Regions from separate parts of the Homo sapiens genome. Here region 1 is linked to region 2. Evidence: fine-mapped expression QTL. Tissue or cell type: whole blood. Region 2 holds a variant in brackets; the other region holds the start of a gene. All regions are shown on one strand. Distances are between the middles of the regions.

What was found. PIP is the estimated chance that this variant, and not a neighbour inherited with it, causes the effect.
Region 1: ANK1 starts here. The variant in region 2 is fine-mapped to the expression of ANK1 in whole blood (INTERVAL, PIP 0.90).

Annotation. Positions count from the first base shown.
Region 1 is chr8:41,794,910-41,799,909 of GRCh38, reverse strand. ANK1 (ankyrin 1) reads left to right here and starts at 2,288. Exons shown (of 43, transcript NM_000037.4): 1 at 2,288-2,398. The coding sequence starts at 2,372. LOC105379392 (a long non-coding RNA gene) reads right to left here and starts at 2,132. Exons shown (of 3, transcript XR_949708.3): 1 at 1,531-2,132; 2 at 1-916. RefSeq lists an enhancer at 16-1,215.
Region 2 is chr8:41,693,231-41,698,230 of GRCh38, reverse strand. ANK1 (ankyrin 1) reads left to right here. Exons shown (of 43, transcript NM_000037.4): 24 at 110-188; 25 at 1,458-1,555; 26 at 1,644-1,868; 27 at 2,900-3,054; 28 at 3,428-3,639; 29 at 4,129-4,333. Among named protein-coding and RNA genes, the nearest start is that of MIR486-1, 35 kb to the right of the region's middle. The variant C/T (reference allele first, on the strand shown) is at 1,914.

The sequences.
Region 1 (5,000 bases), 100 kb before region 2:
GGGTGAATTTGAGGGTCTCAAGCACATCGTGAGTCCGGCTCCCTGAAACCAGGCTGCTCCCCGAAACCAGCCCAGCTCCCTTTCACCTGGGTGTTGGTTTGCCCCTGAGCATGCCTGGCCTTTTCCTCCGCTTCCTGTATCCAAGGGAGAGGAGCCTTGTGTTGCCTGGGGTGACCTAGTTCTGGGGTTAAATTCTGAAATGACCTGGCTCCCAGAGAAGCTGTGCTGGCCCGCCTCAAGCCTGAGGGACTGGGGAGGCACCATGTTGCCCACCGGAAGCACTGCACAAGGAACTAGCAGGATCCTAAGCTTTGGAATTATACTCTCTACCTACAGGATGTTTCCTACATCATGTGACACTCTGTGTTCATATGCTGGTGTTCTCTCTTCTGAGTGTGGGAACTCCAAAGAGAAAAATATTGTTCCTCCTCTTCCTTGGATGGTGAAACGGCTTCTAGCTTTCGTCACTCCTGCTGGTGACAACCACGGGTTCGTTCCAGAAGCCATTACTGAGCACTTGCTATGTTCTGAGTCAGCTAATATTTAAGCTTCATTCTTGCCCCTGAGTGGGGTGCATGCCACGCTGCCCCCTCATGAGTGAGCCTGGCCCAGTATGTGTTGCCAAGTGAGATCATCTGTCCTTCGGGGAGGCTGTCTGAAATCATGTCTAATGTGACCTGCTTCTTTTACATTTTTTAGCTTTCTGGCTCCCTCAAAACAAACAAACAACAACAACAACAACAACAAACAGCCATTGTTTTGAGTCCAAGTGCTTCAAAAGGCTCCTGCTTAAGGACTGTGCTGTGGTAGACATGGCGGTTCCTTCTAGCCCACATGTGGCCTAGAACTCTGTCAGCTCTGTCAGGCACTAGTCCCCGGGGAGATGGCCCAGCGTCCATGGGGTGCGCTCCAGCTGCTGTGGAAAACACAGACGGGTCATGAAGCTGATCTCGGTGGCATCTTTCCGCAGCAGCTGTGCCCTCATGGCAAGGCCAGTTTGGTGCTGCGGGAAAGCTCTAAAGCCAGATGGCGGCCTCGTCAGGGGACCTGGACCAGCGTGGGCCCAGCAGGAGGCCAAGCATCACGTGAGGAAGGCTGGAGAGACCCTTCTCAGGGAGGACTGCACCAGAGGCCCCCAGCGGTGACACCCACCCCTAGAGGAAACCATGGAGGGAGACAGCCCCCACCTTAATGGCACCACCCCCAGGGTCCAGGGAGGCTGCCATGCCCCTGGCCCCGCAGCTCAGCTCCTCGGGGTCACCTGTTCCCTCTGCCAGCCACCAACTGCCATTCCAGGATATGGTGTTCTCACTGATAAAGCCATTCTGGGCAGATGACATCTCATCCCGTTGTTGGACGGGCGGACGTTGCAAAAGGCGGCTTCCTAGGCCAGGCCTGCAGGAGCTTGGCCTGGGATGGTCCAGCCTGGCTGGTGGGCAGCCCCGACCTTCTGGCAGCTGCGGGACCGCCTGGGCGCCCCCCTGCCCGCGCCATCCCACGCCCTCCTAGCCGCTGTTTGCGGTGACTCACCTCGGTTCCCAGGAACGTTGTTATTTTTGGCCCTGGTGTTATTAAGATTGTGCCCAGATTCCCTGCAAATCGGCCACTAAGCAGCATGGGGCCCTAGTGAAAGCACGCGGAGAACAGAGGGGGCAGCGCGCTTCGGGAGGCTCCCCGGCCTTGGAGAGCTCCAGCCTCCCCGGGGGGCGGAGGGGCCGGCCAGAAGGACTCCTGCGCCCCACACCCGCAGCGCCGACAGGGCGTGCGCCCTGGCTCAGCGCTCCCCGACTGCTCCCAACCCAGGGGCACCCAGGGCCGAAGCTTCCTCTACAGAGCCTCCCCCTCCTTAGGAAACAAAACAAAACAAAACAAAAACCAGGAAAGGCAAATTGTGTAGATGCCACTAAAAAGAAATTCCCGCTTAGTATTGCTTCCCCTGCACCCAGCGACTTTTAGACAAGCAGAAGAGGAGATGCCCTGCCCGCGACTAAACCGGACTCCCTTTCATTTACTACCCTCTCAGCGTGTGGCCTGATGTCCAACTCTGGGCTCTGAACTCAGCTCTCCCCGGCTGCTCTCGACCCCGGGGCAACCAGGGGTCCGCGCCGGCCGAGGCCTGGGGAGCGGGGCCTCCTGGGGTTGGGGGAGGAGGTGCTCTTGTAATCTGCGGTCCCCAGGCGGGCGCCACCCCTCCGCCCGCCCGTGCCGGGAGCGCCCGGCCCGACAGCAAGCGCCTCTGGGGCCGATAAGGCCCTCGGGGGCCTGGCCCGCACGTCACAGGCCCCGCAGAGGCTGCGGTGAGTCCGCCAGCCCCAGCTGCTCCTCCTCAAGCCCCCAAGGCCCTTCGGCGGGCCCCTGCTGAAAGACCGGCATGCCCTATTCTGTGGGCTTCCGCGAAGTGAGTACTGGGCGGCTGCTCGGGTGGACGGGGAGATGTCAGGAGGGGGCCACCCAGGCCGCGCCAGTAGGCAGCACGCGAGCAAGAGCAGCTTTGCACACCCCACCCGCCTCGCCTCCCCGTGGGCTCCCTGCCTTAGCATAGCGGCACATCGACCTTGTAGCTGAAGGCAGCAGGTGGACTCTGCCCTACTCGCTGAAGCCAGTTTCATATTTTTTACATCCAGAGATTTGCTGTCAAATTGAGTTCCAACTACCTGGGTCTCTGAATTATGTCCTGTCAGCAATAGCGCTGGGGAGGGATGGTTTTTGGATTATAGTCCAAATCTATTGAGATCTTAGAGGCTTTCCTTTGAGTCTGCTAAACTGCGTTTTGTAGGTGTGTTATTACAGGCTGCGGGGTGGGCCACCCGGCTAGGGGGCTGTCACTGTCATTTGGAAGGGGACTTTGGCTTGTTTTCTCAAAGACTCACGGAGGCCGGTGGTCTCATGGTCACACCTGCTCGGTTCTTTTAATTTATGTTGTTAATTCATGGAGAGAAATATGTCTACGAAGGAAGGGAAAGAGCGGCGGCGTGGCCTGGGGAGATAGGCTCTCATGGATATTTTTCAAGTGATAATGGCGCGTTAGCAAGGCCACTCCAGCCTTCTTGTTCTCCCTGTGTAGATAGAACCCGTCCTATCTCTGCCTGGCAGCACGGCCAGCCTGTGCCATGTGTCAGTGTCCTTTGTTGGGTACGGTTCTTAGTTTAGTGATGGATTCAGAGCCCAGAGTTGGACATCAGGCCACACACACGCTGAAAGGGTAGTAAGTGAAAAGGAGTCTGGTTTAGTCGCGGGCAGGGCATTTCGTCTTCTGCTTGTCTAAAAGTCGCTGGGTGCAGAGGAAGCAATACTAAGCGGGAATTTCTTTTTAGTGGCATCTGTACAATTTGCCTTTCCTGGTTGATTTTTTTTTTTTTTCTAAGGAGAGAGAGGCTCTGTAGAGGAAGCTTGGGCCTCCCACTTTAGTTCCACCAGCGGCAAGCAATTCAGGTTAAGTTGGTAGAGTCTTTTTCCTCTTGTGGCACCACTCTAGGGCAGAGGTTCAGGGTGAGTCTTGGAGACCTGATCATAGCCAACTTTGGAAGGAGGCAGGTGACTGCAGGTGTCCCGTGCAATGTGTGAACTGTCTTCAGACTCAAACGCAAGTGTTTTGCAGGAATAAGGAATGGCCGATGGAAAAAATGGGTAAAATTAGCCTTCTTTCACAAATCAAGTTACAGCCTCAAGCCACTTTTCTCTGTGTCTCAGTTTTCTTGTCTGGGAAATGGGTCTGCTGTGAGGCTGAAGTGAGTTACTCGGTTATGAAAACATTAGCAAAGGGGACAGAGGCTTGAAGACGTTTATTGTAACCAGGATCCATAGACTCAACTCACCCTTGACTTTATGGGTCAATTATAATTAGTTTCTTCTCTGTTATTGGTATATAATAATTTACATATTTGTGGAATACATGTGAGTGTTTGTTTCATGCATAGAATGTGTACTGACCAAGACAGGGTATTTGGGGTGTCCATAGACTTGAATGTTTATCATTTTTACGTGTTGGTATCATTACAAGTCCTCTCTTCTGGTAACTTTGAAATGTACACGGTATTGTTGCTATTATAGTATAGTCACCCTAAGCTGCTATCAAACACCAGAACTTATTTCTTCTATCTAACTGTATGTTTGTACGCATAACCAATCTCTCTTCATTCTCTTGCCCCCCACCCACCCTTCCTGGTCTCTGGTATCTATTATTCTATTCTCTAGGTCCAAGAAATCAACTTTTTTAGCTCCTATGTATGACTGAGAACATTCAGTATTTGTCTTTCTGTGCCTCGCTTATTTCACTTAGCATAATGACCTCCAGTTACAACCACGTTGCTACAAATGACATGATTTCATTCTTTTTCGTGGCTCAAGCAGCTGTAATTAGTTTTTATATTTATTTATTTAATAATAATTATTATTATTTTTAAGACAGAGTCTCGCTCTGTTGCCCAGGCTGGAGTGCAGTGGTGTGATGTTGGCTCACTGCAACCTCTGCCTCCTGTATTCAAGCAATCCTCGTGCCTCAGCCTCCTGAGTAGCTGGGACTACAAGTGCGTGCCACCATGCTTGGATAATTTTTGTATTTTTAAGTCTCAGTCTCACCATGTTGGCCAGGCTGGTCTCGAACTCCTGACCTCAGGTGATCCACCCGCTTCAGCCTCCCAAAGTGCCGGCATTACAGGCGTGAGCCGCTGCGCCTGGCCTATAATAGTTTTTAAACCCAGGTTGCCACCTCTCACCCCAAAATGGTTCTGCCAGTGTCTCTGCAAAACCAGCTGACTTATTTTGAGATTAATCAAACTGCAATATATTTAGAAAAGCAGGGTTTCAGTTGTTGGTGTTGCCAAAATGAACAGAGAAAATAAGAGTGTTTTCTAAAGGTGAAGTGACTAAAAACCTTTGTCCTCCAGGTCTGTTTAACAACCTTTACGGCCAGGCACGGTGGCTCACGCCGGTAATCCCAGCACTTTGGGAGGCCAAGGCAGGTGGATCATGAGGTCAGGAGTTCGAGGCCAGCCTGGCCA
Region 2 (5,000 bases):
TCAGGCTCTGGAGTGGAAAGCCGGAGGGAGAGGCTTGGAGGCAAGAGGAAGAGGAGCTGTGTGCACATGTGGATCAGCCCTGTGATGTTCTGGTGTTCTTGGCACGCAGGGTGGAATCTCCAGCCATCCCCAGGATTCCCTGTGCCATGCCTGAGACAGTGGTGATCAGGTCAGAAGAGCAGGAGCAGGTGAGAAGCTCCTTCTCTGTGGTTTCCCCACATGGAGGGCATGAAAACCCTGGGACAGTGATTGTTGAGGGGTGGCCTGTACGTAGCACAATAGGCACTAATAGCTCACATGCCACTCACTGTCCAACTGGCATTCCACGCTTGGACGCCTCATAATGGTGCAACATTGGTGGCGCTGGGTGGGCGGCGTCTGGAAGAGATGGTCAGATGGGGCCCTTTCCTGTGGTGGCGCAGTCCTTGGATGCAGCCCAGGACAGCAGCAGTGAGAAACCAGTGGGTCCTTGACCAGCCCACTGTCTTCAACTCTTGGCCTAGGGTAGGAACTCCAGCCAGCAGATGTTTACTGGATTCCTGCTGTGCACCCCGGACAGGCTCAGGCAGGAGGGCTGGACACCTGCCTCCTGGGAGCCGGGGCCCAACCAGAAAGAGTGGACTCGGACGCATGAACCCAGTTAGCACAGAACCAGGAGGGAGAGCGGGGGAGTGCTCCACTGTGTGGTGTGAGTGCTCACAGAGTGCAGAGCAGGGAGGCCCTAACCAGCCCCAAGGTGGCTGGGAGCATCTGTGGAGGAGGTGAGATGTGGGGAGTGGAGAGGATTAGATCAACAAGGGCGATGGACAAGGACGTTCTGGACCGGGGGAAAAGCAAATGTGAAGATCTAGAGAGCAGCAAGGCTAGGTTCAGGTGCTGCTGGCTGTGCCAGGGCAGCCTGGCATCCCTGTAGTTGCAGCGTTACCCTAAGGCAAGTTCCCGTTGCACAGGTGAGGAGGCAGGAAGCCCCACAAGGGCAGGAGTCTGTTGTGTTCACCTCATGGGCTCCAAATGTCCACAGGGCAGGTAGTCCGCCCACAGCTAACTGGCGAGGCGGTCACGGTGCTGGGATGCAGTGCCCACCCTAGAGGAAGTTGGCCTGCTGAGGGCAGGGCTCCCCATGGGCAGAGCTGGAGAGAAGGGGGGCGGGTCTGCAGCAGGTGCAGCGGGCCTGGGGCCTGGAGCCAGACTGAACAGTGAGGACTGGCTCCACCCATTCCAAGGCTCTGTCCCAGGGTCTTGAGCCAAGGAGAGGCATGGAGGTGGGAGGAAGCTCGTGCTTCCTTTTAGACCTCAGGACGGCCTTGTCTGACAGGGCGGTGGGGTCCCGTGGGAGCACTTTCTCCACGTGGCACCTGGTTTCTAGCGGCAAGGTTCTTCCAAGCCTCCACGCCCTGGCACGGCATCCAGCTGGCCCGGGAGGAGGTGGGACAGGAGGACCCTTTCTCTCTCCTCAGGCATCTAAAGAGTATGATGAGGACTCCCTCATCCCCAGCAGCCCGGCCACCGAGACCTCAGACAACATCAGCCCGGTGGCCAGCCCGGTGCATACAGGGTGAGTGGCGGGCGCAGGGCTCGGGGACTCCTGTCTCCATCTCCGAGAGGGGATGCAGAAGCCCAACGTGCATCTGCCCCACTCCTAGGTTTCTGGTGAGCTTCATGGTTGACGCCCGGGGTGGTTCCATGAGAGGAAGTCGCCACAACGGCCTGCGAGTGGTGATCCCGCCACGGACGTGCGCAGCGCCCACCCGCATCACCTGCCGCCTGGTCAAGCCCCAGAAGCTCAGCACGCCGCCCCCACTGGCCGAGGAGGAGGGCCTGGCCAGCAGGATCATAGCACTGGGGCCCACGGGGGCACAGTTCCTGAGGTGAGCTTGCGCGGGCAGCCCGTGTTCTCCCCTGTCCCTGTGCCA[C/T]GGAGGCCACGCCATTTCCATCTGTCCTGATGGGGAAACAGAACTGGGTGCCCCTCCCCTTTCCCTGACTTTTCCTGACACACGAAGGTGTCCATAGCCCTGAGAGGGCTTACAACTCTCAGATCTCAGGTCGGGCACGATAGCTCACGCCTGTAATCTCAGTGCTTTGGGAGGCTGAGGTGAGAGCATCGCTTGAGGCCAGGAGTTCGAGACCAGCCTGGAAAACATAGCAAGACCCCGTCGTTGTAAAAAATAAAAAGCAAAACCAAAAAAACAACTCTTAAATATTGTGTGACACTAGAGACAAGGCCACTCTGAAGCCTGAGGGTCTGACCTTTTATGCACTGAGAGTTCCCAGTAAGACGGCCTCCCTGGCCGTTTCCCCTGAGGACGAGGGAAGTACCCGGCTCCAGAGGCCTGTGCTCCACTCCCTTGAAGCAGCCTGGGCTCCTCCTGGAGCTTTGCTGCCCCTCAGGCACCATGGGTGTGTTGTGGGGACAGGCCTGACCAGGAGGCCCTGCCTTCTACCTCTGTCCGCCCTCCTGGCCCCTCAGAGCGGTCACCACCATTTGCAAAGCAGCAAGTTTTCTCGTTGACGTTTCTTTGTCCTCAAAGTGTCCCTCTGAAGGAAATGTCATTATGGCCAGTTGATAGATGAGGTCACCCGTCTAGGGATGTCAGGTGGATTTTTGGAATCAGGTGCAAGGACAGGATCTTTAGGTCGTAGGAGCAGAGCCCGCATGAAATGAGACTGGTCCTGCCCTCACTGTCACTGCAGGCCTGGCGGGGAGCAAGCGGGGCCATGGGAAGCCCTGGGGAACCTCCCCATGGGTCTGGTCCACTTAGAGACCTGCCTGCAGGTGGGGCCTCCACGTGGCTGCGGAAGTGCCTTATCCATCTGGGTGGGAGCCGGCAGCCCCATCCCTCCCTGTGCCCTGCCTGCCTTGTATGAGCACCTCCCCACCACCACTGTGTCCTTGCCTCAGCCCTGTAATCGTGGAGATCCCGCACTTTGCCTCCCATGGCCGTGGAGACCGCGAGCTCGTGGTTCTGAGGAGCGAAAACGGCTCCGTGTGGAAGGAGCACAGGAGCCGCTATGGAGAGAGCTACCTGGATCAGATCCTCAACGGGATGGACGAAGGTAGGGGCGGGGGATCCCAGGGCTGGGTCCCCTCCTTGCGGAAGAGGGGTTTGAGTTGCACCTTAAAGGTGGTCTTTGAGGGCCACCTGAAGTTTGGGAAGCCCCAAGAGGCTGAGAATGGCCTGGTGTGGACAAGCCCTGGGTCCCCAGGATGTGTGAGAGGATGCTCAGCGGCTGCCTGCAGCCGCATCTGCTCTGCTGGGCCTCTGGGCCTGGGCACTTCTTCTGGCCACTTCTTCTGGCCACTATGCCGCCCGGCACCTGGGGAGGGTGTGTGCACTGGGTCTTGGGGACAAGGAGACTCTGGGGCCCCTGGAAGTCCTGAACCTGTGCCTGATGTGACCGGGGTGGTGGCCTGTGTGTGTGATTCCAGAGCTGGGGAGCCTGGAGGAGCTAGAGAAGAAGAGGGTGTGCCGAATCATCACCACCGACTTCCCGCTGTACTTCGTGATCATGTCACGGCTCTGCCAGGACTACGACACCATCGGTCCCGAAGGGGGCTCCCTGAAGAGCAAGCTGGTGCCCCTGGTACAGGCAACGTTCCCGGAGAATGCCGTCACCAAGAGAGTGAAGCTGGCTCTGCAGGTGACAGCCCTCCTCCCCGCCAGGTCCTGGGGGTGGACTGAACTCCAGGCCTCCGGGAAGGCCACCCTCTTCCCCAGGACATCCCCACACTTTTGTCTGGTGCTTTGAAATGCCACAGTGGAGATCTGAGTTTAAAGCTCAAAGGAGAGTTAAGTGGGAAGGGGTGAGGTGGAAGCTCCCTGATAAGTTGCAGAACCCCTGGTAACCCATCAAGCTGCACGGCCCAGTCTGTGCAGCATGCAGGAACCGCATGACCTCCGGGAGTTGACTGTGGTGCTAGCAAAGATGCACCAGCCCTGGGAGTAAGAAGCAGAGGAGAAGGGGAGAAAGGGCTCAGGAAGGCAAGCTCCACCGTGTCGGTTCTGTGGTCCAACAGCAGGGCGGGACCCCGTGCACTGACGGCCACTCTCACCAGGCATGGAGCTGCCTCCCGTCTGATTAGCCCCTCTCCTGCTTGGGCCTGAGTGTCCTGCCTCTGTCATTTCACAGGCCCAGCCTGTCCCGGATGAGCTTGTCACTAAGCTCCTGGGCAACCAGGCCACATTCAGCCCCATTGTCACCGTGGAGCCCCGGCGCCGGAAGTTCCACCGCCCCATTGGGCTTCGGATCCCACTACCTCCTTCCTGGACCGACAACCCGAGGGACAGCGGGGAGGGAGACACCACCAGCCTGCGCCTGCTTTGCAGCGTCATTGGTGAGAGGGGCCCCTGCCTCGCTTCTGTTCTCGGCTGCTGCAGTGCGTCTGGAACACAGTAGGGGGGTGACTCGAGAAGGCGAGGCCAGCAATCCCCTTAGTTTTTGTTGACTTCCCCGGGAGTGAGGTGCTCTTCCAAGAGATGGAAGGATGATGTATCTGCATAAAAGTCCATGCCCATGTGGTGACTCACGCCTGTAATCCCAGCACTTTGGGATGCCAAGGCGGGTGGATCGCCTGAGGTCAAGAGTTCGAGACATGGAGAAACCCCGTCTCTACTAAAAATACAAAACTTAGCCAGGCATGGTGGCATGCACCTGTAAGCCCAGCTACTCCAGAGGCTGAGGCAGGAGAATTGCTTGAACCTGGGAGGTGGAGGTTGCAGTGAGCCGAGATCATTCCACTACACTGCAGCCTGGGCAACAAGCATGAAACGCCATCTCAAAAAAAAAAAAAAAAAAAAAAAAAAAAAAAAAAAAAGTCCATGCCCCTGGGGAAGAACTCTCCAAGCCCTAGGAGGAGGGGCATGCAGGTTGCTAGGAGGAAGAGCAGCGGGGTGAGGGTAGGGTGCCCAGGGCTGCAGACAAAGTGAGCTTCACCCAGTCTCACCTTGCACACCACGGCCTTAGCATTTTAGTAAGCTCCATGCTTACATCCTGAAGACTGT